Homo sapiens: one gene and its partner. The protein of the gene in region 1 purifies or fractionates together with the protein of each later gene. This does not show direct contact. Each region holds a gene or a part of one and is shown in the gene's direction. Other genes may lie near its edges. The genes, in order: TTC27 and ECD.

The links.
Region 2: the proteins of TTC27 (region 1) and ECD purify together in Homo sapiens (affinity purification with mass spectrometry; 2 studies listed by BioGRID and IntAct, with this or other methods). This does not show direct contact.

What each region holds. Positions count from the first base shown.
Region 1 is NC_000002.12:32,618,173-32,633,951, forward strand, and holds the start of TTC27 (tetratricopeptide repeat protein 27), read left to right. Parts: upstream 1-9,877; 5' UTR 9,878-10,120; coding exon 10,121-10,208; intron 10,209-12,350; coding exon 12,351-12,528; intron 12,529-15,703; coding exon 15,704-15,779.
Region 2 is NC_000010.11:73,142,753-73,158,052, reverse strand, and holds part of ECD (protein ecdysoneless homolog), read left to right. Parts: intron 1-1,397; coding exon 1,398-1,485; intron 1,486-1,599; coding exon 1,600-1,778; intron 1,779-3,604; coding exon 3,605-3,797; intron 3,798-5,631; coding exon 5,632-5,760; intron 5,761-6,347; exon of another isoform or gene 6,348-8,334; intron 8,335-8,441; exon of another isoform or gene 8,442-9,583; intron 9,584-9,648; coding exon 9,649-9,777; intron 9,778-11,691; coding exon 11,692-11,777; intron 11,778-15,300. UniProt on the Homo sapiens protein: Regulator of p53/TP53 stability and function. Inhibits MDM2-mediated degradation of p53/TP53 possibly by cooperating in part with TXNIP. May be involved transcriptional regulation. In vitro has intrinsic transactivation activity enhanced by EP300.

The sequences.
Region 1 (15,779 bases):
TATATAAGGGAAACTACCTTAGGAAAGAATGTTTACTGAATGTTTATTTTATTTTATTTTTTTTTTACTATAGAGTGAGGGGTTGTTAACAAAGAATATATATTGGTCATTCTTACAACTACTATTTAAAGTCAGCAACTTTTCACTGAATTTGATAGATTTTATGTTTGGCCATATCTTCATGCTCACATTTGATTTCTGAAGACCTCCTACATACACTTCAATAAAAGTTAAATGGACATACTCCCTCTTTTTTGATTTACTGGTACATTTTTAAAATAATAAATCTGCCATAAAATGCATTATATCTGGAGACTTGCACTTGTATGGATGAATTTATTACATTCAACATATTTAATTTTATGCCTTCTAATTCTAAGATGCAGAAAAAAATAAATGAACATGATTTTATTCTATGCCAACATTTGGGCCTCTGAATGTATCTGTTATTTGAATTTAAGTATTTGAAAAGGAATGGTCAATTTGAAAGTCATTCTAAACTGATTTTTTTTTTCTAAAGGGCTCCTTTTTTCCTGGACTATGTGGTTTTATGACTAAAGTCACATGTATGTATTAAACATTGAGGCTCTGTAGAGGAGAGAGGATGTACCTCTCTGGTGCTGTTACAGTACATTCTGTACCTGCCATACAGGCTCATTTTCATGCAAATTCTTCCTAGAGCCAAATAAATAAAGACTTAGGTGAATTAGTATGTCTTGTTTCTAAACCCCTTTGCCATGGTGTGAAATGCTATTTCTATAAAGAATTGAACACTTTCAAGACTTAAGCATGGGAAAACAAAGCATGTTTTTCCAAGACCAGTTGCCGCAGGGGAAAGGCTAAGGTGATTCTTTGACAGTATTTTTATAAAATAAAAGTGGCGGCTGTGCGCGGTGGCTCACGCCTGTAATCCCAGCACTTTGGGAGGCCAAGGCAGGCGGGTCTCCTGATGTCAGGAGTTCGAGACAAGCCTGGCCAATGCGATGAAATCATGTCTCTATAAAAATACAAAAATTAGCCAGGCATGGTGGTAGGTGCCTGTAATCCCAGCTACTCAGGAGGCTGAGGCAGGAACTGGAGCTGACGCCTGAATCTGGAGCTGACCAGGAGAAGCCGTATTCTGAAAGGCGAGTTGCTCTCTGATGAAAAAGGGGATCTTGGGGAAATGATACTCTCTTATGTACAAAGTATAAAGCTCCTTCAGCATGGAAAAAGGAGAAACGAATAGTATTTGGACAGGAAATCAAAGATTCTAAAACACATAGTGTTAGGTCTGGTGGGTAGTGAGCTACACCGAAAATGACAAAATAGTGGTAGTTTACAAGAAGAAAAAAATTATGTCACCCACAGACATGCCAGCTAAAATCTAAGTATAAAATTATCAGCAATAATAAAGGACAGTCATTAATCCTTTAGGCTATTTTTTGTTGTTTTTGTTTGTTTTTGGACTGTGAGTGCTGGATGATAAAAGCTGTATCAAATGTATTGTTTGTCTTCCATGTAAAATGAAAGTAACAATACCAGTACTATAAGGTCCAGTTCATATTTTTTAAAAACCAAAGTCTAAACACCTAAATTGGAACCAATTACATTAAAACATTCCATTTGAGATCCAGACTTTATGTCAACAAACATTTGAGCACTCATTTTTTACTAGTTCCAAGTTCCTGCACTTGAGGAGTGAATGACAGACATGAAAACATGTCAGTGCCATCTGGTAAGGTCTCTGGTAGAGTTATTTACAGGGTAATATTGGGAGCACAGAGGAGAATCCTTATCTCAGGCAAAACGTTGGGTGGGCACTGAGGTGATAATGGTCTGGAAAAGCTTTCTAAGTGCAGACTAATTCTTGAAGGATGAGGATAAAGAAGTTAGCCAGGCAGAAACAAGATAATCCAGACACAGGAGAGCAAAAGGAGAGCTCAGGTTGATGGCACCATATTGGATGTTACTGGATTTTTAACAGGCAAAGTGAGGATAGTCAAAAGGGATGGGAGGCAGTGGTTTTGGAAAGAGAGGAGGGGTCAGTTCATCCCAGGCCTTTGCTTGCCCTGTTAAGGAACTTTGACTTCCTGTAGGTAAAGGAGAGCTCACAAGTAGCTCTAAGGAAGTAACCTGATTAGTCTATTTCAGGAAGATCATTCTGCAACCTGTTGAGAAGCGAGGAGATCAGTTAAAAGCCTGCTCACATCCAAGCAATAGGTCATAAACTAGGGCACATAAACTGTGGAGATTAAGAGACAATTGACAGGACTTTGGGAAATACATATATTTGTTAGGAGAATAACTTTAGCATGTTTTCAGGCTAGGGAGCCAGGGGAGAAGTCCTTGGGGAAGGATGGAGCAAAGCCTAACAGACATAAATGACCTGGGTCCAAGAGCACATGCGGAGAACTTGAAGAGATGTGAAAATCAGTAAAGTGAATTGGTCTATTTGTGAAACTTTTAACTATATAAAGTTTTTATCTTAATGAACAGTAAAAAAACAAAAAGTAAAACTGCTTAAATACTTTCCTAGCATTAAGACAAAAATCTCCAAAGTCAGACAAATGTAAAATGTACTGTAGGCTGGGCATGATGGCCCACACCTGTAATCCCAGCACTTTGGGAGGCTGAGGCGGAATGATTGCTTGAACTCAGGAGTTTGAGACCAGCCTGGGCAACATGGCAAAACCCCGTCTCTACAAAAAATAGCAAAATTAGCTGGGCATGGTGGCACATGCCTGTGGTCCCAGCTACTCGGGAGGCTGAGGTGGGAGGATTGCTTGAGCCCAGGACATGGAGGCTGTAGTGAGCCTAGATCACGTGACTGCACTCCACTGTGGGCAACAGCAAGACCGTGTCTTAAAAAGAAAATTAATGGATGTTTTTAACCCATCTCTTACTGTTGGACAGTTTGGAATTGCTTTTGTCTCTGCTTTTCTGATTATAACTAATGCTGTGATGAGCATGGTCTTATCTTTATTTTCTTATGATAAATCCTAGAAGTAGAATTCCTAGGTCAAAGGTTTTGATATATAATGACCGCTTTCCTGAGAGGTACTGATTCACACTTGGAAAATCTTTTAGTGTTGTCATGCGTTGGCCAGCATTGGAGATTATATAATTTTTTGATCTGATATTTTATTATCATCAAACATGTTTTAATGTGCATTGAACATTGTTTATATTACCCATTTGAATTTCTACTTTTGTCAGTTACCAGTTTATACCTTTTCCCTATTTTGTGTATTTTCTTAGAGTCTTTTAGTATGTATCAGCTACTTATAGTAGAATATTAGTTTTTGTCAAACTTCTGTGTATTTGTCCAGATGGCCTTTTAATTTTTGTTTAATTTTTCTCATAGAAGTTTTAAATTGTGGGGCCGGCCGGGTGCAATGGCTCACTCCTGTAATCCCAGCACTTTGGGAGGCTGAGGTGGGTGGATCATGAGGTCAAGAGATCGATACCATCCTGGCCAACATGGTGAAACCCCATCTCTACTAAAAACACAAAAATTAGCTGGGCGTGGTGGCAGGCGCCTGTAGTCCCAGCTACTTGGGAGGCTGAGGCAGGAGATTTGCTTGAACCCAGGAGGCAGAGGTTGCAGTGAGCCCAGATCGCACCACTGCACTCCAGCCTGGTGACAGAGCGAGACTCCGTCTCAAAAAAAAAAAATTTAAATCGTGAAGTCATCTATTGATCTGTTCCTTTCTGATTTTAATTGCATTTTATTCCTTTGAAGTTATTCCCTATGCAAAGGCAAAAAAAAGGCTATATATTTTCTAACTGAGATTGATTTTTGGTATTGTTACAGGCTTCGCTGCAACTGAATTGCAACAGGCTTGAGCTGCTTCCCATCTCGCACCCTGCAGAGGCAGGTATGGTGGTGACAAGCCAGAGTCCACATGTGGATGGAAGATACAAGCCATGTTGAAAGGAAGCTCCATCCTGCTTTCTCTTTCCTCTTCAAACTCTGCCCAGTTTCTAGCAGCCATCCAAGCCTCCTTTCTCTCAGCTTCTAGCCTCCTGATGCTTCAAGCTCTAAAGGGGCTGACGTGAACCCTGTGAGCCTATACATTTCCTGTATAGAAGAGGCATTCTCTGGCCTTCTTTCTCCCTTAGTTCCTGGATGTGATCTCGTAGTGCTCCCATGAGCTCCACCAAAAGTCTGCTTTCCATTGCTTCCTTCATGTGTGTCCCTCTTCAGGTTGCACTAGCTGTTTTCCTGTGCAGGAAGAGACTGCAGCCCACCACCATTTTAATTGTTTTCAGTTTTATTCACGTCTCACTTCTCCAGGGAGGGAATACCCAGTCCAATTATGTCAGCTGCAGGCTGCCCTGGGCCGCTGGGAGACCTACGGCCTCAGGTTAGACACTTCTGCCTGCTGGGGTCCCCAGGATACTGCCCCTCCCCACCTCCCTGTACTCCTCTGGGTCAAAAGGTAGACAGGCATTTCCCTCGTTCTTATTCCTACCACTTCTGTTCCTTGCTGTTGCTTTCCCCCAGCCTTTCTATAGGTTTTGTTCTTTGGTTTATTCCTTCCCTTTTTCACCTTGCTGTCTGCAAAGTCAGCAAATGCAGCCATAGAGTGCCTTCCAGCTCTGGAGCTTTTCTCATCTTTAGAGGAACCAGCTAGAGCTCCTCTGTGCCGCCTTTCTGGGAGCTGCTATTTTTGTTATTGCCCTTCTTGCCAGATAAGTATGAGATTTCCCAAGCCTGGCCAATTTTCAAATATTTGTCCTGTTGGGTTTTTTTTTTTCTTCTCTTTTTATAAGACTTTGTCAGAATTTTTTGATATAAATTCACAAATGAGAAAAAATATTTTTTCAAGCCCAAATCACTCATATGTTAGTTTTGGTTTAAAAAAAAAAAAAATCTTCCCCCTGGTTGTCTCCATACCCCAAAGGTAGCAGTTACTTCCTGAAGCAAGGCAAATACTTCCTTTGACCCAAAGGGCAAAGTTAATCTCCCAAAGGAGTTTAGCAAGGGAGAGCTTAGAAAGGCCTGAAGCTCACCTACCCTTAGGTGTCATTTGTAAATGCCTCTTTACCAAGGAAAGATAGTGCCTTAACTTGTTCTGAGCACTTGTACCTGCTCTGCAATGTGCTGGATTCTTGGGATAAAATGTCATGTAAGAGTCTGACCCTACCCCCAGGAAGCTGTCAGTCTAATGAAATAAATAAATAATATTCATCATTTCAATTGTATTTTGGGAGTCTTCCAGTTATCACCAATTTCAGTCTCTGAGCCGAAGCGATCACCTTAGATTGTGAGCCAAGGAAGGACAGATCCCTGAGAAGACTTCATGCAGCTCTAGGAAAAGCCTATACTCTTCAATCATCTGGCTTCTGATTTCGCAATGAGAAAACTATACCCTCGTCTGCCTCAAACGAGGAACCCCTAATACTTAGCTAAGAATTGCTAACATTTTTTGGTATCTATGTCCTAGACCCTATGTTTAGTACTTGATAACTTAATCTCTATCAGTTGGTCTCAATTTGCCAACTGCTAGGGAAAAAGCATCACACTATGGAGATACGGAAGCATACCAACTACCCCTCCCTTCAATCAGCCTGCCCTTGCTTCTAGCAGGTGACCCCCACCTCACCCCATCTTCTATTTTTCTTTTCTTTCTTTCTTTTTTTTTTTTTGACAGTCTTGCTCTGTTGCCCAGGCTGGAGTGCAGTGGTGGGATCTCGGCTCACTGCAAGCTCCACCTCCCGGGTTCACGCCATTCTTCTGCCTCAGCCTCCCAAGTAGCTGGGACTACAGGCACCCACCACCACGCCTGGCTACTTTTTTGTATTTTTAATAGAGGTGGGGTTTCACCATGTTAACCAGGATGGTCTCCATCTCCTGACCTCGTGATCCGCCCGTCCCGGCCACCTGAAGTGCTAGGATTACAGGTGTGAGCCACCGCGCCCAGTCCTCAGTATACTCAAACAATAGTTCCCCTCTTCTGTTAGTATCTGTTAGCACCTATGAGACTTAAGATGTAAAACTTTTTTTTTTCTGAGACAGAGCCTCGGCTCTGTCGCCCAGGCTGGAGTGCAGTGGCATGATTTCAGCTCACTGCAACCCCTGCCTCCCGGCTTCAAGCGATTCTCATGCCTGAGCCTCCCTCCCGAGTAGCTGGGATTATAGGTGTGCACCACCACACCCAGCTGGGTCTTGCTTTGTCGCCCATGCTGGAGTGCAGTGGTGCAATCTCGGCTCATTGCAACCTCCACCTCCCGGGTTCAAGCAATCCTCCCACCTCAGCCTCCCTAGTAGCTGGGATTACAGGCGTGTGTCATCACGTGCAGCTAATTTTTTTATTAGAGACGGCGTTTCACCATCTTGGCCAGGCTGGTCTCAAACTTCTGACCTCAGGTGATCCGCCCGCCTTGGCCTCACAAAGTGCTGGGATTACAGAAGTGAGCCACCACACCCAGCCATGTGTTTGAACTAATTCTGTCTCCTATCTTTTTAAGTGGTGAAAGGGAGGCTGGATTTGTCATTAGCTCAAGCATAAGGAAGTCAGGATTGCGAATAGCATTTCATGACCCTTCCATCTCCTTTCATATTCATTAACAGAGCTCACATTTAATAATAATTTTTAACAGTGTTTGCAAATGTTTGTGGCAGCTTTATTTGAAGTAGCCAAAAACCGGAAACAACTTCAACATCCCTCCACAGATGAATAAATAAACATTGTGATGTATTCATACAATACATACTCTTCAGTTATATTTTTTAAATGAACATTGATACGTACTATATAAGAATATCAAAATAATTATGCTAAGTGAAAGAAGCCAGAAAAAAAGTATATACTGTATGATTCCATTATATAAATCTAGAAAATGCAAACTCATCAATAGTGACAGCAGATCAGTGGTTGCTTGGAGTGTAGAGGATGGGGATGGCAAGAGGGCCGGATTATAAAGAGGAACAAGGAAACTTTGAGGAGTGATGGATGTGTTCACCGTCTTGATTGTGGTGATGGTTCATGGGTACATACCTAAATTAAAACCTAACAAATTGTACAGTTAAAATATGTGCACTTTATGCCAATTATACCTGAATAATGCTTTTTATAAAATTGTTGTATGAAGCTTAAAATCTGGTCTCCCAAGACCAATATTCTCCAGAAGGCTTCTCCTGACATAACAATTCTTCCTTCTTCTGACACCGTTGGTCCCCTGCTCTTTCCAAACCCTGTGTGCCTCGGAACAATGGCCCTGCAACCACCGCTTTCCTTCAGAGAGTGAGCCAGTCCTTGCCCTGTGCTTCCTTCTAGTCAGTGCAACCAAACTCTGATCTGGTCCTCCTTGACCCCTCTGATGCTCCCATGGCACCATTATTTTCTCCAATCTCCTAGCCTCTTGTAATACTTGTTGAATTTACATCTCCAGCCATCCTCCTTCCTATTTTTTCTCCTTTTGGAAGAAACGATGCAAAACCTTGTTTCCTTGTCACACAGTATTTCAAAATAGAGGTGTTATAATTGTATTTATTTTTTACTGTAGACCAAACATTACTATAAACATTTAGCTAGAATCACTAGTTTAGAGAAGATGAGATTTTGTAATAGGTTGGGAACTACTTGACATAAGAGACGAGAAAGGAAACAACATGGATTAGAGGCATAAAATAAGCCAAGGATAGTCCTAAATTCTGTTAAAAGTATCTCTCACTTACCTCATTCTTAGTCTTGAATATGGAGACTTCTGGCTTTCTATCTCCACTGGGCCCTGGAACTGTGGCAGCCAGAGCCTCACCTTCCAGGTAGGAGATTTAAAGAGTCTTTTGGAGAAATCTGACCAGCCCAAGAAAAAAAGACTTTTAGATAGTGACATACAGGATCCCAATAGACTCGTCAGCCAAGGCATTCTATACTGAATCCTACAGTAGATATTTCATTGCCTGCTCAATTTCCACTCACTATGTACATATTTTTAATCGAGACCATATTCCCCACCTACTTTATTACTGGAATTCACTTTGCTTGAAGGGAGATTAGGCAGACTTCAGTCACCATCATCATCTAGCATACCACATTTAAAACAAACCAACCTTGAATTTAACTGAAAGTTGCAAGTTTACTATGTGGATTAACGGGGTGCTACATACAGGTGAGGAACTTTGGCAGAGCGGCCAGTGTGTTTTTACAGACGTTCATCTTTAACAATTATCAAATTAGTTTAGACAGTGCTGGCTTTTATACTTAAGGAAATGAACAGACAACCTGGTCAAGTATCATTTTCTAGAAAAATAGTGGGGTTTTTTTTGTTTGTTTATTTTTTTGAGACGGAGTCTCGCTCTGCTGCCCAGGCTGGAGTGCAGTGGCGCGATCTTGGCTCACTGCGACCTCCGCCTCCTGGGTTCAGGCCATTCTCCTGCGGCAGCCTCCTGAGCAGCTGGGACTACAGGCGCCCGCCACTACGCCCGGCTAATTTTTTAAAAAAATATTTTTAGTAGAGATGGGGTTTCACCTTGTTAGGCAGGATGGTCTCCATCTCCTGACCTCATGATCCGCCCGCCTCGGCCTCCCAAAGTGCTGAGATTACAGGCGTGAGCCACTGCGCCCGGCCTGAAAAACAGTTTTTAATTACTTCTCAGTGGGAGGACATTTTAGGGCATCCGCTCTTCTCCAATCACAGTCAGGTCCGGCTTCCTTTGGTATCTGATGGCAATGGCTGAAATGAGCTGAGCTGAGTTCCTCTCCCTTCACATTCTGGAGTGGCTCTTTACTGAGTAAGAAAGTGAATTAACATTTATTTAGCTTCTTCCTTGGAGCTGGGTACCGGGTCAGCCTCTTTTCAGAGAGCTTTTGCTCTTGTGGTCAGAGTTACCCTGCAGTTTTCTCCTGGCTCTTACATGACATATCTCAGTACAGGTGTCAAGCCAATGGGACAAAGCCATAGTCCTGTTTTCCTTCCCTCCTTCCCTCCCTCCCTCCCTTCCTTCCTTCTTCCCTCCCTCCCTCCCTCTTTCCTATTGCCCAGGCTGGAGTGCAGTGGCACCATCTCAGCTCACTGAAACCTCCGCCTCCCGGGTTCAAGCAATTCCCCCGCCTCACCGTCCCGAGTAGCTGGGTTTACAGGGGTGCCCCACTACGTCCGGCTAATTTTTGTATTTTTAGTAGAGACGGGTTTCACCATATTGGCCAGGCTGGTCTCGAACTCCTGACCTCAGGTGATCCATCCGCTTCATCCTCCCAAAGTGCTGAGATTACAGGCGTGAGCTACCGCGCCCGCCCTCTAACTGTTTCTTTGGAGTGCTGCTAGGAAGATTCAAAGAAGTGCAAATAAGGTACCAGCGGAGGCTGGTTTGTCTCCTTGCAATTTCTTTGTGATCACCCCTGGGATCACTCTTCTACAGCGTTCCGACAGTGTTCCAAAAACTTCCCTGCACCAGCGGCAGGGGCAGATTTCCCACCCGGCCATGATTCATGTAGAGCAGTGTCAAAACCAGATCCTTTCCTTACACGCTCATTCGCCGAAAGACCCATGCTATGCTGACGGGGTTCCAACCTGGGCTTCACCGACTCCACGTCAGAGGGTCTGTGATTCCCTGAGAGGGTACCCTTAGGCTGAGAGCAAGGGCCCACCTGCACTCTGCGCGAAGGACTGTGGTTTTCATCGGGTTGTCGAGAGCGTTCTAACCCAAAATGCTTTAAGAATCACAACTCTAGCCCTTCTAATCAAACTGCTTTGGCCAAGACGTCCGTTTTGAGTTGCATTTGAACCCTAGCCCTCGGTGGGAGGCACACTCACTTCCACGTTCACAGTTCTTGGAAGCGGTCCCACTGGGGGCGGGGCTGAGCGCGACCGCGCCCTCAACTCCCCCTATTGCCCGCCCCGGGGTGGGGCATAACCACCCAACAGGCTCCTTACTCAAGCTCGGGTTCTTCTCCTAGGCGGAAGCCAGACCAGAGAGCGTGCGTGTTTTTCCCAGGGTGCCCCGCGCTGCTGTTATGGCCGCCTCCTTGAGGTAGTATCCGCACATGGAATTCTAGGGCCGCAGGTGTATTTACGGTAACTGTCGCCACTAGATTTCAGCGCCTTTGGACTCTCCTGTTTTCACTTTCTTTTGTTGACTCCCGTGTGGCCCTCGTGGGAGCCTGTTTTGGCTGCAGCGGTGTCTGGGGTGATGTGGACCCCGGAGCTGGCAATTCTGAGGGGATTCCCCACTGAGGCTGAGCGGCAGCAATGGAAACAGGAGGGGGTCGTCGGTTCAGGTGAGAGGCGCACCTACCGGGCCTTAGGCTATCGTGGGAACTGTGAGGAAAAGGGATGGCAGCGACTGATTCTCATCCCTCCCTTCATTTTTCCCTAACACAGTCTAGCTGATTCCTTGAGGCTTTGGGTCGTTTAGTCTTTGACATGGTGGGCGTGGTCCTCACTTTCTTTGCGCAAAACTTCTTACCGCCCAGGTTCAGTAATAATGACAATGGCAATGTCAGTTATTTTTCTAAGCCCTTAACATGTACTCAGTCATTTAATGCTTATAGTAGATACTTAAGGTAGATTCAATTTTTAATCCCATTTTGCGGTGAAGATCTGTAAATACAGTTGGGTTAAGTAATTTTATTTTATCTATTTATTTATTTATTTATTTATTTATTTATTTATTTATTGAGACGGAGTTTTGCTTTTTGCCCAGGCTGGAGTGCAATGGCGCGATCTCGGCTCGCTGCAACCTCCGCCTCCCGGGTTCAAGTGATTCTCCTGCCTCAGCCTCCAGGGTAGCTGGGATTACAGGCATGCGCCACCACGCCCGGCTAATTTTGTATTTTTAGTAGAGTCGAGGTTTCACCATGTTGGCCTAGCTGGTCTGGAACTCCTGACCTCAGATGATTCGCCTGCCTCAGCCTCCCAAAGTGCTGGGATTACAGGCCTGAGCCACCGCGCCCGGGTCTGGTTAAGTAATTTATTTAAGGTCACACTGTTGGTAAGCAGAGGAGCTAAAATGAGGCAGCAAAGTTGTTTTTTTGGGGGGATGGAGTCTCCCTCTTGTTGCTCTGGCTGGAGTGCACTGGTGCCATCTCGGCTCACTGCAACCTCCGCTTCCCCGGTTCAAGCGATTCTCCTGCTTCAGCCTCCAAAGTAGCTGGGACTACAGGCATGCACCACCATGCCCGGCTAATTTTGTGTTTTTAGTAGAGACGGCTTTCATCATGTTGGTCAGGCTGGTCTGGAACTCCTGACCTCAGGTGATCCACCCGCCTCGGCCTCCCAAAGTGCTGGGATTACAGCCATGAGCCACCATGCACGGCCTAGGCGGCAATGATTTATTTTTTTTATTTTTTTGAGACAGAGTCTCGCTCTGTCGCCTAGGCTGGAGTGCAGTGGCGCGATCTCGGCTCACTGCAAGCTCCACCTCCCGGGTTCACGCCATTCTCCTGCCTCAGCCTCCCGAGTAGCTGGGACTAAAGGCGCCTGCCACCACGACCAGCTAATTTTTTTTTTTGTATTTTTAGTAGAGACGGGGTTTCACCGTGTTAGCCAGGATGGTCTCGATCTCCTGACGTCGTGATCCACCCACCTCGGCCTCCCAAAGTGCTGGGATTACAGGCATGAGCCACCGCGCCCAGCCTAGGAGGCAAAGATTAATTCTTGTGAGCAATGAATATTTACCAGAGAGATAAAGAGTTAAAAGGCACATGCACTGGCACATCTGGTTGTGGGATTTAGGCTGGACCCAAAAGAGTAATAATGAACAGTGTAGTGTGTAAGTACTCTGTGTGTATGTGTGTGTGTGTGGGCACTTGTGTGACACAGTAGGTGCTTCCAGTGACAGGAAGTTTGAACTTTGGTGGCCTGGAAAACTTTCCTAGAAGAAGTTAGACTTGAGCTGATTTTGGATTAAAGGGTAAGACTAACAAGTGGAGAAGAGTTCAACAGGCGATATCACAAGTGCAAAGTGTGGAGGCAGGAATACGCATGGGACATTAGGGAAACAATGAGTAAACCAGCGCTCTTGGAGTGACTTTTCAAGAAGAGAAAATAATGGAGGTAGAAAGAACCAGATTGTGAAAAGTTTTAGAACCTTGACTAAGGAAACTTTTGTATTGTCAGTAGGAATCTTTGTGAATTTCCCAGCAAAAGACTAAATACCTATTAATGAGGAATATTATTTCTGGGGCTGACTTCCACTTTGGGGCTCATAGTCAGTATGAGTGAGCTGCTAATTCTAGGAGAGAGAATGTTTGTAGAATGATGGAAATTTACTGAGTGCCTTGTGACTGACATACAGTAATCATTCTAAGTCTATAGATTGTTTTTGCACACTAAAATGGTAGATTTACCTAATAGTGTTATCCTTTACGGTATGAAAAATAATTTTTTTTGGATTACCGCACTAATTTTTTATATTACAGAGAGTGGATCTTTCCTACAATTGCTACTGGAAGGGAACTATGAAGCCATATTCTTAAATTCAATGACTCAAAATATTTTTAATTCAACAACAACCGCTGAAGAAAAGATTGATAGCTACCTGGAGAAGCAGGTAGTAACATTCCTGGATTACTCAACAGATTTGGACACAACGGAAAGGTAGAATTTTATTTGAAATTTTCATAGAGGAACAGAGCAAATACATTTAATAGCACCTTGACAGGGTAAGGCCCTGATTTTAGCAGTTGAGAAACCTTGCCTTATATTTTACTCAAGACTCATGGTGTACCAAGTAATCTATGTAAAAACTCATCCAGAAGTCCATCCAGAATGAAGAAGTAAAGTGGTGCAGGATAAAATGGTTTCATATATGAGACTGGCACATATTTTGGTGTTAACTGCAAATGCTTAGGTCTGGTCGGCTTTACCCACCGGCAAAACTTCAGACCTTATTTCCTTTAACTTAAAAACATACTTTCAGGCTGGGTGCAGTGCTTCACGCCTGTAGTCCCAGTGCTTTCGGAGGCCGAGGCGGGCGGATCACATGAGGTCAGGAGTTTAAGACCAGCCTGGCAAACATGGTGAAACCCCGTCTATACAAAAATACAAAAATTAGCTGGGCATGGTGGCATGCGCCTGTAATCCCAGCTGCTAGGGAGGCTGAGGCCGAAGAATCGCTTGAACCTGGGAGGTGGAGGTTGTAGTGAGCCAATATCCCGCCATTGCACTCTAGCCTGGGCGACAGAGCGAGACTCTGTCTCAAAAAAAAACCAAAAAACAAAAAACATACTTTCAATCTTGTTATTTCTGCATAGCTGAGTGCTAATTTGTAACTATTTATTATGTTTTAGATTATTATCTTTATAGAGCTCAGAGAACTTAATGTTTTTGTAAGGAAGCCCTTGGTTTACCTTCTTCCATTAAAGTTTGTGTAATTTTATAGGGTTAAGTATAGCAGATAGTTACACAGCAGGGAAACCTAAGCTTTTCAGTGGCTTATATTTCATTGTTATAAATTTGATACCTCTATCTTTCGTCTACTATCTGTGGCAACCATGTCAAGCTTTAATTATCTTATAAATGCATGCAATTTTATTTTACCATTATTTCTAGGAAATAGCTTCATTTAGTCCTTCAACAAATAAACTATTGTAGTAGATGTGGAGGTTCTGAGGATGAATAAAGCATAACCCATATTCATAAGGAGTTTGCAAAAGAATGCTACTACAGGCTTTTAATTTTATTTTGAAAATTAATATTATTCATTTTCTTTTTTCTTTTTTTTTTTTGATGGAGTATCACTCTGTTGCCCAGGCTGGAGTGCAGAGGCGTGATCTCGGCTCACTGCAACCTCCGCCTCCCAAGTTCAAGTGATTCTCTTCCCTCAGGTTCCCATGTAGCTGGGATTACAGGCCTGTGCCACACCTGGCTCATTTTTTTTGTATGTTTAGTAGAGATGGGGTTTCACCATGTTGGCCAGGCTGGTCTTGAACTGCTGACCTCAGGTGATCTGCCCACCTCGGCCTCCCAAAGTGCTGGGATTACAGACGTGAGCCACTTCGCCCAGCCTCCATTTAATTTTTTTTAGTTTACTGGTAGTTATGTTCCTTTGGTATCATTCTTTTTTTTTTTTTTTTTTAGTTCCTTTTTGTAGAGATGGTGTCTTGATATGTTGCTCAGGCTGGTCTCGAACTCCTGGGCTCAAGCAATCCTCACCTCTGCCTCACTAAGTGTGGGGATTATAGGCATGAGTCACTCCGCCCGGCTGGATTCTCATTGCTTTCTTATATGTGTGCACTCTCATAGCAACTAGCCTTGTGGCACCCATTAAAACAACACATTCACACAAATGCATTATTCACTGATATACCAGATTTCTATCTTGTCACATAAAGCTAAAAAGAGACATTTCAGTTGACTCATTTTCAGACATTTGAAAGTTAAAGTGTATTTTCAGTTCACCTTATGGATTTTGTTTTTTGATTAGGACAGTTTATTAAGGCTGTTTTCTCCAAATTTCCAAACTTCTGATTGCATACCAGCTCTTTTGTTATCTTTTTTCTCTAATGCTGCTTATTTGCATTGCATCCAGAGTTTTATATTTTTGCTACCATAGGCTTGTATGTTTGATTTTTTTTTTTCTTTTTCTGAAAGACTCTTCCTTTTAAGGAAGGGCCTAGGGGCTGTGGGGAAAAAAGTGATTACTAATACTTTCTCTTCAGAATGAAACTCCAGGATTCCCTGGCTGTTATTTGCTAGAGTTGGATCTGTACCTATTTAGATCCTAATTTAGGGTTTGGCACATTATGGCTGGCAGGCTAACTAAGTGGCTAAGAATTAATGGGTTTTACATTTTTAAAGGGTTGGAAAAAAACAAACATGATATGCAAAGCCTAAAATATTTCATATTTAGAAAAAGTTTGCCTATCCCTGTCTCACATCACAGCAAGACTGAAAAATAGAGTTTTCACTAAAATATCTATATGTTTTGTTGTTGTTGTTGTTCTAGCATTTGGTGGTATGGGATTGGTAAACAATTAGCAACAACTTTATATCATCACTTTTCTTTTGTATAAAGTCAGTTTTCTATACATCTTGCAACATCAGAGCTGTTAAAGGGAGTGCAAGAAAAACTTATAGATGTCTGATCAGAACCTAAATCAACACCGTTCAAGATAATTTTCCGTGGAGATAGAAGTGCTCTCTATCTTCATTGCCCACATGGTAGCCACTAGCCACACTTAACTATTGAGCACTTGAAATATGGAAAGTATGACTAAGGAACTGAATTATAAATTTTATTAATTTTAACTAATGCAAATTTAAACCATGTTTGGCTCGTGGCTATAATATTGGATATTGTAGACCTAATTTCTTTTTTTTTTAAGAGAGACAGGGTCTCGCTTTATCATCTAGGCTGGAGTACAGTGCTATGATCAAAGCTTACTACAGCCTCAAACTCCTGGGCTGCAAGCAATCCTCATGCATCAGCCTCTTGAGTAGCTGGGATGTACCACCATGCCGGCTAACTTTTAATTTTTTTGTAGAGACAGGGTCTCACTATGTTTCTCAGGCTGGTTTTGAACTCCTGGGTTCAAATGATCCTCCTACCGTGGCCTTCCAAAGTGCTGGAATTACAGGCATGAACCACTGTGCCTAGCTAACCTAAATTGTTTTAAGTTTTAGAAATTTTTTTTTTTGGTAATACTCTAGGATAGTCTCAATAAATGTTGATAGATATTATTTTCTTAATAAAACTGAAATGGAATAGTGTGTTTGAGATTATACAGTGATAGTAGTTCATATTTATTTCTTTAACCATTCTTATATGCAGACAACAGTTGATATTTCTACTTGGTGTGAGCAGTTTGCAACTTTTTGTTCAGAGCAACTGGACGGGGCCCCCTGTT
Region 2 (15,300 bases), on another chromosome or scaffold:
GGAGGTAGAGGTTGCAGTGAGTGTGATTGCACCACTACATTCCAGCCTGTGCGACAGAGTGAGACTCTGTCTCAAAAATAAAATAAAATAAAATAAAATAAAATAATAAAAATAGAAGTATAGAGCTAGAACGATATATAACAGTATATAAAATATGCCATGTCTTGTGTAAAAAAGGGAGAAAATACAAGTATATATTTCTATAGTTAGATTATGTGTAAGCAAACTCTAGAAGGATATACAAGAAACAGCAGTGATGCATGTAGGGTTGAGCAGATAGGGACAAAAGTAGGAGGGAGACTTTTTTATTTTGTAACTTTTTTTTTTTTTGAGATGGAGTTTCGCTCTTGTTGCCCAGGCTGGAATGCAATGGTGCGATCTCGGCTCACCGCAACCTCTGCCTCCCAGGTTCAAGCAATTCTCCTACCTCAGCCTCCCGAGTAGCTGGGATTACAGGCATGGGCCACCACGCCTGGCTGATTTTTTTTGTATTTTTAGTAGAGACGGGGTTTCTCCATGTTGGTCAGGCTGGTCTTGAGCTCCTGACCTCAGGTGATCCGCCCACCTCGGCCTCCCAAAGTGCTGGGATTACAGGCGTGAGCCACTGCACCTGGCCATGTAACTTTTAATACATTTTTTTAAAAAATGTAACCATGTGAATGTATAACCTATTTTAAAAAATTAAATTTAAAAAAGTGATACGGGCCGGGCGTGGTGGCTCACACCTGTAATCCTAGCACTTTGGGAGGCTGAGGTGAGCGGATCACTTGAGGTCAGGAGTTCGAGACCAGCCTGGGCAACATGGCGAAACCCTGTCTCTACTAAAAATACAAAAATTAGCTGGGCATGATGGCGGGCACTTGTAATCCCAACTACTCAGGAGGCTGAGGCAGGATAATTGCCTGAAAACAAGAGGTGGAGGTTGCAGTGAGCCGAGATCATACCACTGCACTCTAGCCTGAGTGACAGAGCGAGACTCCGTCTCCAAAATAAAAAAAAAAAAAGTGATGCAAATGAGGCAGAAATAATTATCTTTTCAGGCCCAAATAACACCTCCTACATGAAGGCTTTTCTAATCTCAGCTATGTGTTTCTTTTTTTTCTTTTGGAACCCTATAGTACTTTCGTATATTTTCATATTTTTGTCTAATATTTCTTTATGTAAATTGCTTATCTTCTCTCCTTATCATATCTACCTTCAACTCCTCCTTACAATCTTACAGTCTCCTTCAGTGCTTAATGTTATCTTAAATATTTTGCTTTCTTATAGCCATCTGCACATAGTACATACTCAAATATTTACTAAGATGAAGAGGAAAATGTATTAGAATGAAACTGTTTTGGTTACTAGCAGATATATGCTTTTTGAATGCAAAATTGGAAATTTTCTTGCATTAGGATTGAAGACAATGATGGTGAATTCTTGTTAATAGAAGCTGCTGACTTTCTCCCTAAATGGCTGGATCCTGAAAATAGCACCAATAGGGTAAGTATACCCAAGTTTAGAAAATTTATAGAGATGAAATCATGCTGCATTACATTCATATGTACCTGCAGTTTGCCAGTGCCCACTGTGAAAATTGAAATGTACCGTTTGCAGGTATTTTTCTGCCATGGGGAATTGTGTATTATCCCTGCACCAAGAAAATCTGGAGCAGAATCTTGGTTACCCACCACACCCCCAACAATTCCACAAGCATTGAATATAATCACAGCACATTCAGAAAAAATACTTGCTTCAGAATCTATACGAGCTGCTGTGAATAGGCGCATCAGAGGGTAAGAAAAATATCACTTTCATTGCTAATTAAGGAACCTTTTGGTTTCGTGTAGTTCAGTCTTTCTTTGATTTTTGTTTGTTTTCCTTAAAGCTCTGTTGGAGTTGATCAGTCTTTCTTTGACTATAAAATACCTTTCACCTAGATTAATGCTAATTTTCATTTTGTCTTCATTCCTCTTTATGAAATAGACTAGTAAATTAAACTTACAGATTTTAAAATCAGGAAACAGATACATCTTTAAATTCCCATTCAGAAGTGTTACAATCTTGTCCCAATATTTTTGCATTTATTTACCTTAGATATTGTGGCTAAGTATTAGCTATATCCATGGGTAAAAAATTTGAGACCTTTAAAAATAGAAACTTCATGGGCCTGGAGCGATGGCTCACACCTGTAATCCCAGCACTTTGGGAGGCTGAGCAGGGGGCGGATCATGAGGTCAGGAGTTCAAGACCAGCCTGGCCAACATAGTGAAATCCCATCTCTACTAAAAATACAAAAACAAAATAGCAGGGCGTGGTGGCAGGTGCCTGTAATCTCAGCTACTTTGGAGGCTGAGGCAAGGAGAATCGCTTGAACCCGGGAGGCGGAGGTTGCAGTGAGCTGAGATCACGCCACTGCACTCCAGCCTGGGCGACAGTAGGAAACTCCATCTCAAAAAAAAAAAAAAAAAAAAAAGTAGAAACCTAATGGAGCACAAACAAGGTGCTCAGGTTTTTTCTGTTGTTCTGGGTCTGTATATGGGATTCTTTGACCTATGTCAGAATTCAGTTTCTGAATAAAACTTTAGCTTTTATTCAGAAAAGAAAGGTCTTAGCCTAATTACATATTCGTTCATCCATTCAAATTTGGGTGCCTATTAAATATTAAGCACCATTCAGGTATTAACAATATTAAAAATATTTTTGGCCGGGCGCGGTGGCTCACGCCTGTAATCCCAGCACTTTGGGAGGCCAGGGCGGGTGGATCACAAGGTCAAGAGATCGAGACCATCCTGACCAACATGGTGAAACCCCGTCTCTACTGAAAATACAAAAAATTAGCCGGGCGTGGTGGCAGGCCCCTGTAGTCCCAGCTGCTTGGGAGACTGAGCGCAGGAAAATCACTTGAACCTGGGAGGTGGAGGTTGCAGGGAGGTGGAGGTTACAGTGAGCCGAGGTTGCACCACTGCACTCCAGCCTGGCGACAGAGCGAGACTCCGTCTCAAAAATAATAATAAATAAAAAATAAAAATCTCTTTTAGCTTCAGCATACTTTGTACCATTCTTTTAGAAGAATAAACTCTGATTTTATCTTTATTCCAAAGTATAATAGGTATTTTTGTTTTGTTTTGTTTTTGAGATGGAGTTTTGCTCTTGTCGCCCAGGCTGGAGTGCAGTGGCGTGATCTCGGCTCACTGCAACCTCTGCCTCCCGGGTTCAAGCGATTCTCCTATGTCAGCCTCCCGAGTAGCTGGGACTACAGGCGTATGCCACCACGCCCAGCTAATTTTTTGTATTTTTAGTAGAGATGGGGTTTTACCGTGTTAGCCAGGATGGCCTCAATCTCCTGACCTCGTGATCCACCCGCCTCAGCCTCCCAAAGTTGTTTTGTTTTTATAGAGCTACAATAATCCCTTTTCTTTATTTTCCATTTCTTCCTACTTTTTTCTTTCCCTCTCTCGTATATTCTTAAGTGTATATACAGTATCTTTTTTCATCTCTCTTGTCACTCTCTACGTACTGCTCTTGATGAACAAAGAGATGTCAAAAAGAATGTGAATGGTATAAGAATTATAGGTATTTATATACTGTAAAATGAAAGTAATTATGTTACCTGTCCCAGGTACCCAGAAAAAATTCAGGCCTCACTTCATCGAGCACACTGCTTCCTTCCAGCTGGCATTGTGGCAGTGCTAAAGCAGCGCCCCAGATTGGTGGCTGCAGCAGTCCAGGCATTTTACCTACGAGACCCTATTGACCTGCGAGCTTGTCGTGTTTTCAAGACATTCTTGCCTGAAACACGAATAATGACATCGGTGAGATTTCTATCTTGGTCATTTAGTTTCTCTTACTGGAAACCGAGTTGAAACATTATTATTTTTTTCTTTTTACATTTCTCAGTGCTCAGTGAATGAAACATTATTTTAATTGTTCTCTAGAAAAAAAAGGAAATATTCTGTTTCTTCATAGCATGTTAATATAGATTGAATATTCCTTATCTGAAATGCTTGGGACTAGAAGTATTTCAGATTTCAGATTTATTTGGATTTTGGAATATTTGCATTAAACTTACTACTTGAGCATCCCAAATCTGAAAATTCTGAAATCTCAAAACTTTGAGCATATCGTTGGGACTCAAAAAGTTTTGGATTTTGGAACATTTTAGATTTCAGATATTTACATTTGGGATGCTCAAACTATACACGTTTTTTCTTTTCTTGCACCCAGTGAAGGAAATTTTCAAGAGACCTGCCTCCCCATTTTATACTCAATGTTTTATAGCTATTTTTGACCATATGTTTCTATTTCTATAATTATTTCCTTTTTTTTTTTTTTTTTTTTTTTTGAGACAGAGTCTCACTCTCTCACCCAGGCTGGAGTGTAGTGGAGCCATCTCAGCTCACTGCAACCTCTGCTTCCTGGGCTCAAGCGATTCTCCTGCCTCCCGAGTAGCTGGGATTACAGTCACCTCCCAACACGCCCAGCTGATTTTTTTATTTTTAGATGGTGTTTCGCCATGTTGGCCAGACTGGTCTCGAACTCCTGACCTCAAGTGATTCACCCACCTCAGCCTCCCAAAGTGCTGGGATTACAGGTGTGAGCCACCGCACCCAGCCTAATTATTTCCTTCTTAACAATAAAACATTTCATCTCTTCCAGAGAATTAAGAATTATTCTTGGCCGGGCATGGTGGCTCACACCTGTAATCCCAGCACTTTGGGTGGCCAAGGCAGGTGGATCACTTGAACCCACGTGTTTGAGACCAGACTGGGCAACATGGTGAACCCCATCGCTACAAAAAATAAAAAAATTAGCTAGGTGTGGTGGTGGGCGCCTGTAATCCCCGCTACTTCGGAGGCTGAGGTAGGAGGATTGCTTGACCCCAGGAGGTTTGGGAGGCCAAGGTGGGCAGATCACCTGAGGTCAGGAGTTTGAGACCAGCCTGGCCAGCATGGTGAAACCCTATCCCTGAGGCTTCAGTGAGCCATGATTGCTCACTGCACTCCAGTCTCTGCAACAGAGCAAGACCCTGTCTCAGAAATAGAAAAAATGAATTATCTTTATCTTCCAGCCATTTAATTGCTGTATAATGTAACTAATGATAAGAATTTTACTAGCGATTACTAAAAAGTAGGCAGTAGGGTAAAATTTTTTTTGCAACAGTGTCTTGCTCTGTTGCCCAGGCCGGAGTGCAGTGGAGCAATCTCAGCTCACTGCAACTTCCTCCACCTCCCGGGTTCAAGCAATTCTCCTGCTTCAGCCTCCCGAGTAGCTGGGATTAGAGGCGTGCGCCACCATGCCTGGCTTATTTTTGTATTTTTAGTAGAGATGGGGTTTCACCATGTTGGCCAGGCTGGTCTCAAACTCCTGACCTCAGATGATCTGCCCACCTTGGCCTCCCAAAGTGTTGGGATTACAGGCATGAACCACCATGCCTGGCCAGCAGTAGGGTAAATTTTATGGTATGTGAGTTGTATCTCAATAAAGCTGTTACTAAAAACAAGTAGGCAATGAATAGGTTGAATCTTCTTTGCATTTCATATGAATATGAAGCTTATAAATGGACTTCTCATTATATTTAACTGTGAAGTGTTATTCACAATCTTAATTTCAGGAAAAGACTCATGTATTTTGTGTCTTGATGCCCAGGTCACATTCACTAAATGTCTATATGCACAATTGGTGCAACAAAGGTTTGTGCCAGACCGGCGGAGTGGATACAGGCTGCCTCCTCCATCTGATCCCCAGTACCGAGCCCATGAATTGGGCATGAAATTGGTAATGTTGAACCAGAAAATGTTGTTTCCTTTCTTTATGTAAATGGACTCTTAATAGAATAGTGGCACAATATACAAAGTCCAGAAATACACCCTGTTTATGTAAGAATGCAGTAAAATGTGGCATTTCAAATTAGAATGAAAAAAATGGATTACTTAGTAAGTGATGATGGGACAAGTCTGAAGTCATCTGAAAAATTGAAGTTGATTCCCTAATACCTATACCAAAATAAATTCCAATTGGATCAAATATTTGAACATAAAAATTGAAACTATACAATTTGAAAAAAAACCAAGAACCTTTTATAATTTGAATAGGAAAGGCCTTTCTATGCATGACTTGAAACCAGAAGCTATAAAGGGAAGACTGATGAATTTGATTATGCAAAAATTAAGCATTTCTGCACGGGAAAGAAAAACTCCATAAATAAAGTCAAAAGCAAATCTGGAAAAAGTGTTATATTTGCAATCTAAATGAAAAAGAGCTGACTTCTCTAATACATAAAGTGTTCCTTTAAGTCAATATGAAAATGATAATACTAGCCAATTAATTTTAAAATGTTCAGAACTATGAACATAGTCCACAGAAAAGGAAATACAGGTGACCTTTAATTTAAACATATGAAAAATATTGAATCTTAACTCATAATAAAAGAAATGCACTTTAAAGCTACAAAATAGTGTTTTTCTTTTTTTTTTGTTTGCTTTCAAAAATGTTACAATCTAGACATTGATAGGAATGTCTAGATTTTCTTTTTTTTTTTATTATTATGCTTTAAGTTTTAGGGTACATGTGCACAACGTGCAGGTTTGTTACATACGTATACACGCGCCATGTTGGTGTGCTGCACCCATTAACTCGTCATTTATATTAGATATATCTCCTAATGCTGTCCCTCCCCCCTCCCCCCACCCCACAACAGGCCCCGGTGTGTGATGTTCGCCTTCCTGTGTCCGTGTGTTCTCATTGTTCAATTCCCCACCTATGAGTGAGAACATGCGGTGTTTGGTTTTTTGTCCTTGCAATAGTTTGCTGAGAGTGATGGTTTCCAGCTTCATCCATGTCCCTACAAAGGACATGAACTCATCATTTTTTATGGCTGCATAGTATTCCATGGTGTATATGTGCCACATTTTCTTAATCCAGTCTATCATTGTTGGACATTTGGGTTGGTTCCAAGTCTTTGCTATTGTGAATAGTGCCACAGTGAACATACGTGTGCATGTGTCTTTATAGCAGCATGATTTATAATCCTTTGGGCATATACCCAGTAATGGGATGGCTGGGTCAAATGGTATTTCTAGTTCTAGATCCCTGAGGAATCGCCACACTGACTTCCACAATGGTTGAACTAGTTTACAGTCCCACCAACAGTGTAAAAGTGTTCCTATTTCTCCACATCCTCTCCAGCACCTGTTGTTCTCTGACTTTTTAATGATCGCCATTCTAACTGGTGTGAGATTACCATCTCATTGTGGTTTTGATTTGCATTTCTCTGATGGCGAGTGATGATGAGCATTTTTTCATGTGTCTTTTGGCTGCATAAATGTCTTCTTTTGAGAAGTGTCTGTTCATGTCCTTTGCCCACTTGTTGATGGGGTTGTTTGTTTTTTTCTTGTAAATTTGTTTAAGTTCTTTGTAGATTCTGGATATTAGCCCTTTGTTAGATAAGTAGATTGCAAAAATTTTCTCCCATTCTGTAGGTTGCCTGTTCACCCTGATGGTAGTTTCTTTTGCTGTGCAGAAGCTCTTGAGTTTAATTAGATCCCATTTGTCAATTTTGGCTTTTGTTGCCATTGCTTTTGGTGTTTTAGACATGAAGTCCTTGCCCATGCCTATGTCCTGAATGGTACTGCCTAGGTTTTCTTCTAGGGTTTTTATGGTTTTAGGTCTAACATTTAAGTCTTCAATCCATCTTGAATTAATTTTTGTATAAGGTATAAGGAAGGGATCCAGTTTCAGCTTTCTACATATGGCTAGCCAGTTTTCCCAGCACCATTTATTAAATAGGGAATCGTTTCCCCATTTCTTGTTTTTGTCAGGTTTGTCAAAGACCAGATAGTTGTAGATATGTGGCATTATTTCTGAGGGCTCTGTTCTGTTCCATTAGTCTATATCTCTGTTTTGGTACCAGTACCTTGCTGTTTTGGTTACTGTAGCCTTGCAGTATAGTTTGAAGTCAGGTAGCATGATGCCTCCAGCTTTGTTCTTTTGGCTTAGGATTGACTTGGCAATGCAGGCTCTTTTTTTGTTCTATATGAACTTTAAAGTAGTTTTTTTCCAATTCTGTGAAGAAAGTCATTGGTAGCTTGATGGGGATGGCATTGAATCTATAAATTACCTTGGGCAGAATGGCCATTTTTACGATATTGATTCTTCCTCAAAATAGTGTTTTTCATCATTTATTAGCAAGTATCAAACGGCTTGATAATACATACTGGGTTGTTGAGAATATATACAGAAAAACATTCTCAGACATTGTTGATAGGAATATAAATTGATTGTATCCCTTAGGAGAACATTTTGGCAAAACAGATGTTCCTTGACTTACAGTGGGGTAACTTCCTGATAAACCTGTCAAAAATTGAAAATATCATAAGTCAAAAATATATTTAATACAGCTAACCAACCAAACATCATAGCTTAGCCTAGCCTACCTTAAATGGGCTCAGAATACTTACATTAGCATACAGTTGGGCAAAATCATCTAACACAAAGGCTATTTTATAATAAACTGTTGAATATGTCATGTAATTTATTGAATACAGTATACTATAGAGTACAGTATTGGTTGATTGCCTTTGTGATCACATTGCCAACTGCAGCTTGCTGCCACTGTGTATCCAGCATCATGAGACAGTATGCATATTGCTAGCCTGCAAAAAGATAAAAATTGTAAGTAAGGTTTCTACTGAATGCATATTGCTTTCACACCATCATAAAGTCAAAAAATGTTAAGTCAAACCATCATAAGTTGGGGACCATCTGTATTCATCAACATTTAAAATGCACAAACCTTTTTAGTCAGCATTTTCACTTCTAGAAAATGATTCTTTATGTATTTTACCTATATACAAGGACATATATGGAGCATAGTCATGACAGCATTGTTCATAGTAGCAGGAGACTGGAAACTACTTAAATGTCCATTAGTAGGGGAATAGTTAGATAAATTGTGCTCTAGCCATGAAGTAAGATGGATGAATTTGTGTGTGCTCATGTAAGTGATCTCCAAGGTATATGGTTAAGTGTAAAAAGCAAGGTGTAGAGTAGTGTGTATGCGTCCATTGAGCAACAAAAGGGGTGGAGTAGAAAGCTATGCATACAGAGAGGCACACACATAATACTTCAGTGTGTAGGTTACTTCTGAAAGGATGTGCAAGAAGTTGGTAATGGTGTTCTCTAGCTTGATCAGGGAAGCTCCCTGTTTGAATTATTTAGCCATGTGCATCTATTATTTTTTTTAATCAAAGGACTTTTAAAATGAAGTGATTTCCTCTCTTTACTATGTCTGAGATCATGTTCAATATATGTATAATTTCTGTTGGACAAGAAACCTTTTGTAACCCTGTTCATAATCAAACAAAAAATAAATGTAAATTTCTGGTTTTGTAATCAGCAGGAAAAGGAATCTCTTTGAAGAGAACAGGAATCTTTATTGTATATTATTTTCTTTCCTTTTATGTTTTTAGTAATCTATAATGATTGAGAAACTTGGGAATAAGTTTATATTTTTCATAAAATTCAAAAAGTGTTATAATTGTCCAAATGCCCATGTATCCAGTCATCTAGTTCTAGAGTGTGGCTCAATGGAAAAAAAGTAATGTGTTATAATAAGATACGGGAAAAAAGGAACTTAGTAACAAAAATTCTACCTATCTCATCTAGGCTCATGGATTTGAGATCTTATGCTCCAAATGTAGCCCACATTTTTCTGACTGCAAGAAATCCCTTGTGACTGCCTCACCACTCTGGGCCAGTTTCCTTGAAAGTCTGAAAAAGAATGATTACTTTAAGGTAGGACTTGCAATATATTTGCTTTTAAGTATTCAATCCAGGGAAAATCAAGCCAGCGACTTAAAGTCCTATAGTCCATATTTAAATGTATGACATAATTATGGAAGCTAGACTTAAAGGAGACCTTTCTAGTTCAGTGGTACTCAGGTGCTAATGAAGGAGGTATCTATGAACTGTTTCCAGTATTAGAGAAAAACTAACACTGTTGGTATTAAATGATGAAAGTGATTATCTGTACCAGATAAAACAACTTGCAAAAACTTGATAATGCAAACATGAAAACACCAGATAGGAAAATTAGCAAAGATGTGGATTTTAAAAATTATTAAAAGATACCTAGTAAATTTCTCTTAAAATATTCAACTTCACAAGTAGTAAAGATATATATATATATATATGAACACAGTAATGAAGAATGTCTTTCATGTATGTACAAAAGGATATGAATGATATTCTGTGCTGTCGAGAGTATGGTAAAAATAACACTCCTATACCTTGCTGGTAACATTGCAAACTGGTAGAATCTTAACTGGAAAGTAATTTGGTAGTGTCTTCCAAGAGGTATAGAAAGGTTCAAACTTGGAACCTTCACTTTGAATAATCTTTTTAAAGGAAATATCCAAGAAGTGGAAAAGTCCCGAAGAATATGATGATGATAAAGATGGCACAGCAATACGAAAAGTACTAATGATATTATAGTATATATATGGTATTTTTTTTTTTTTGAGATGGAGTTTTGCTCTTGTCGCCTAGGCTGGAGTGCAATGGCACAATCTTGGCTCACTACAACCTCTACCTCCTAGGTTCAAGCGATTCTCCTCAGCCTCAGCCTCCTGAGTAACTGGGATTACAGGCCCACACTACCACACCCAGCCGATTTTTGTATTTTTAGTAGAAATGGGGTTTCACCATGTTGGCCAGGCTGGTCTCGGACTCCTGACCTCAGGTGATCCATCCGCCTTGGCCTCCCAAAGTGCTGGGATTACAGGCGTGAGCCACCGTGCCCAGCTATTACTGTTGTTGTTATTGTTGTTGTATAGGGTCTTGCTTTGTCACGCAAGCCAGTGTTGTGGTAGGATCATAGCTCACTGCAGCCTCGATCTCCTAGGCTCAAGTGATCCTCCTGCCTCAGCCTTTCAAATAGCTGAGACTAGGCATGTGCCACCATTGCCTGGCTAAAGATTGTTTTTTTTTCTTTTTAGTAGAGTCGAAGTCTTGCTATGTTGCCCAGGCTGGTCTCAAACTCATGTCCTCAAGTGACCCTCCCACCTCTGCTTCCCAAAGTACTGAGATTATAGGCATGAGCCACAGTGCCCAGCTAGTATATTCTTAAAAAATGTAAAATACTAAGTATGACTATCACTATAAATATGCATTTAGAAAACACAAATGATAGTAATGGTGGGATTTTGCCATTTTTTATTCTACTTGGCAAACTTTCTGTACTTTGTTTTGTGAATTACTAGTTAATCAGCTATATCTTTAATTTAATTTTTTTTTTCATAGAGGCAGGGTCTCACCATGTTGCCCAGGCTGGTCCTGAACTCCTGAGCTCAAGCAGTCTGCCCATCTCATCCTCCCAAAGTGTTGGGATTATAGGCGTGAGCCATCGCACCCAGCCAATTATATCTTAATAAGTAATTAAGTAAAAGAAAATGGTGGAAAACTTTCCAAACTGGAAATAGGCCCTTAATGGTGGAAAAGATTAGGAATCACTACATCTAGCCGCGTCCCCTCATTTGAAGAAACTGGAGCTCAAACAGGCCCATTAATGATAAAACAGGGCCTAGGACTTGGGGCACGTGATTCCTGAGTAGTAGATTATTTGCTGCCTCCCTGAAAGTTGCTGGTGAACACATTTTTTTCATGACAACTTGTGAGTAATGTTCTGATAGACCTTTTTTTTTTTTTAAGGGACTGATAGAAGGTTCTGCTCAGTACCGGGAAAGGCTAGAAATGGCAGAGAATTACTTCCAGCTCTCAGTAGACTGGCCAGAAAGGTGAGTTATTGTTAAGACTCCTACTACAAAGATTGGTATTTAGGTAGTTCTTTTTATTTTTTATTTATTATTTATTATTCTTATTTATTTATTTTTTTGAGACGGAGTCTCACTCTGTCACCCAGGCTGGCAACCTCCGCCTCCTGGGCTCAAGCGATCACACCACTGCACTCCAGCCTGGATGACAGAGTGAGACTCTGCCTCAAAAAAGAAAAAAAAAACAACGAAAGAAATTTTGCATCCTCCTCTATGTAATTTTACTCATCATGATATCACATTTTCCATGGCATTATGAAGTCTTTATAAACATAATTTTTAAAAGCTGCACAATATGGCCAGGCGCGGTGGCTCACGCCTGTAATCCCAGCACTTTGGGAGGCCGAGGCAGGCGGATCACGAGGTCAAAAGATCAAGACCATCCTGGTCAACATGGTGAAACCCCGTATCTACTAAAAATACAAAAATTAGCTGGGCATGATGGTGCGTGCCTGTAGTCCCAGCTACTAGGGAGGCTGAGGCAGGAGAATCGCTTGAACTCAGGAGGCGGAGGTTGCCGTGAGCTGAGATTGCACCTGGGGACAGAGCGAGACTCCATCTCAAAAAAAAAAAAAAAAAAAAGCTGCACAATATTTCAGCAAATGGATGTACCCCCATAATTTACTCAACTATTTTTTACTGTTGGGGAAAAAATTACAAGTAGCTTAAATGTCCAACATTTTAATTTATGTTGCAGGAGAGGCTCCCATTCTGCACACCAGGATAATTTTTAAACAGTTTAAAACCAAACTTCCATCTCCCTCCAGACCTGTTGTTGAATTCCCAAAGTTTGTGGTTTTTTTAAAATAGCTGAATTAATATCGTAGACTTTTATTTTAGATTTACCTTTCATTTTCACTTTTTTTCATTTATTGTTATTATTATTTATTTATTTATTTTAGACAGAGACTCGCTTAGTCACCCAGGCTGGAGTGCAGTGCTCTGCCTCCCGGGTTCAAGTGATTCTTCTGCCTCAGCCTCCCAAGTAGCTAGGACTATAGGCATGCACCACCAGGTCTGGCTAATTTTTGTATTTTTAGTAGAGATGGGGTTTCACCATGTTGGCCAGACTGGTCTCAAACTCCTGACCTCAGGTGATCCACCCACCTTGGCCTCCCAAAGTGCTGAGATTACAGGCGTGAGCCAATGCACCCAGCCATTAATTTTTTATTTTTAATTATTGTGGATACATACTAGTTGTACATATTTATGGGGTACATGTGATTACATGTATAATGTCCATGTGGCATACAATGTATAATGATCAAATCAGGGTAATTAAGCTTTCCATCACCTCAAGCATTTATCATTTCTTTGTGTTGGGAATATTTTTAGTTATTCCATTTTTTTAAGGTATTTGGAACTATATAATAAATTATTATTAACTGTAGTCACCCTGTTGTGCTACCAAACACTAGCTCTTTTTAATTTTTTAAAAAATATTTTTTGGGATTTGCCAGGAAGATGTTACTAAAAAGCATTCCAGATCCAGACCCCAAGAGAGGGGTCTTGGATCTCATGCAAGAAAGAATTTTGGGCAAGTCCATAGAGTAAAGTGAAAGTATGTTTATTAAGAAAGTAAAGGAATAAAGAATGGCTACTCCATAGGCAGAGCAGCAAACACTAGCTCTTATTCCTTCTATTTAACTAATTTTTGTAACCATTAACTATCCCCTCTTTTCCCCCCGCTCTCTGCTACCCTTCCCAGCCTCTGGTAACCATCATTCTACTTTTATTATTATTATTATTTGAGATAGAGTCTCACTCTGTTGCCTAGACTGGAGTGCAGTGGTACAGTCATAGCTCATTGCAATCTTGACCTCCTGGGTTTAAGAGATCCCCCTACCTTGGCTTCTCAAAGTTCTGGGATTACAAGTGTGAGCCACTGCACCCAGCCAGCCATTATTCTGCTCTCTGTCTCTCAGTTTAGAATTGTTTTTAGCTCCTACGTATAATATCATAGACTTTCCCCTAATTTATCAGAGATTGTAATAGTGAAAAATTATAAGCAACCAAAGTATCCATCAATAATGGATAAATGAATTGCAGTGTACTTATATGATAGCCTGCTATCTAGTAGTTAACCAGAGATGAACTATATTTACATATATCTGATTTAGGATTTTTCAACCTCAGTGCTACTGACATTTTGGATCTGATAATTTATTGTGAGGGACTGGCTTGCACTTCATAGGACATTTAACAGCATCCCTGGCCTCTATCCAGTAAATATCAATAGCACTTCTCCCTCATCCCCCAATCATGACAACCAAAAATGTCTCCAGACATTGCCAGAGGTACCTGGGCGGCAAAATCGTCCCTGGTTGGGAACCACTGATCTAAATGGGAACCACTGATCTAAATGAATAGATTTCAAAAACATAATGCAGTGAAAAAAAAAAAAAAAGCAAGTTATAAATACGTACAGTAATGGGTACCAAAAAAAAAAAAAAATAGAACGAATGAGTAAGACCTACTATTTGATAGTACAACAGGGTGACTATAGTCAATGATAACTTAATTATACATTTAACATAGAGTGTAATTGGATTGTTTGTAACTCGAAGGATAAATGCTTGAGAGGATGGATACCCCATTCTCCATGATGTACTTATTTCACATTACATGCCTGTATCAAAACATCTCATATACCCTATAAATATATACACCTACTATGTACCCACAAAAATTAAAAATGAAAATGAAAAAGAATAAAATATATACCGTGTGGATGTTACACATATAAAAATTTTAAATATACAAAATACTATACAGGCTGGGCGCAGTGGCTCACACCTGTAATGCCAGCATTTTGGGAGGCCAAGGCGGGTGGATCACGAGGTCAGGAGTTCAAGACCAGCCTGGCCAATATGGGAAACCCTGTCTCTACTAAAAATTCAAAAATTAGCTGGGCGTGTTGGCACGCCCCTGTAATCCCAGCTGCTCGGGAGGCTGAGGCAGGAGAATCGCATGAACCCTGGAGGTGGAGGTTGCAGTGAGCCGACATCGCACCACTGCACTCCAGCCTAGGTGACAGAGCAAGACTCCGTCTCAAAACAAAACAATACATTATTTATAGATACATATATATTCATTTATTCAACAAATATTTATTGAATGCCTCCTATGTGCCAGGCCCTATTCCAGGTACTGGGGATATAATAAATGAACCCAAAGTGTCCTTGTCCTTATAGAGCTTACATGCTAATGTAGGAGAAAGACCGCAAGCCATTATGTAATATTAGGGGGTGGTAAGTGCTATGAAGAAAAAGCAGTGTGTGGGGTAGAGGGGTAGAGACTGCTCTTCTAGATAGATTAGTCAAGGAAGGCCTTTCTAAGGAAGTTTTCTTTGAAAAGAGACCTGAATGAAGTGAAGGAGTGAGACATTCAGTTATTTAGGGGAATAACATTCCAGCAAAAGGACAGACAGCAAATACAAGAAATAGAAACAGAAATATATATACATACAGAGAGAGAGAAAAGTGCC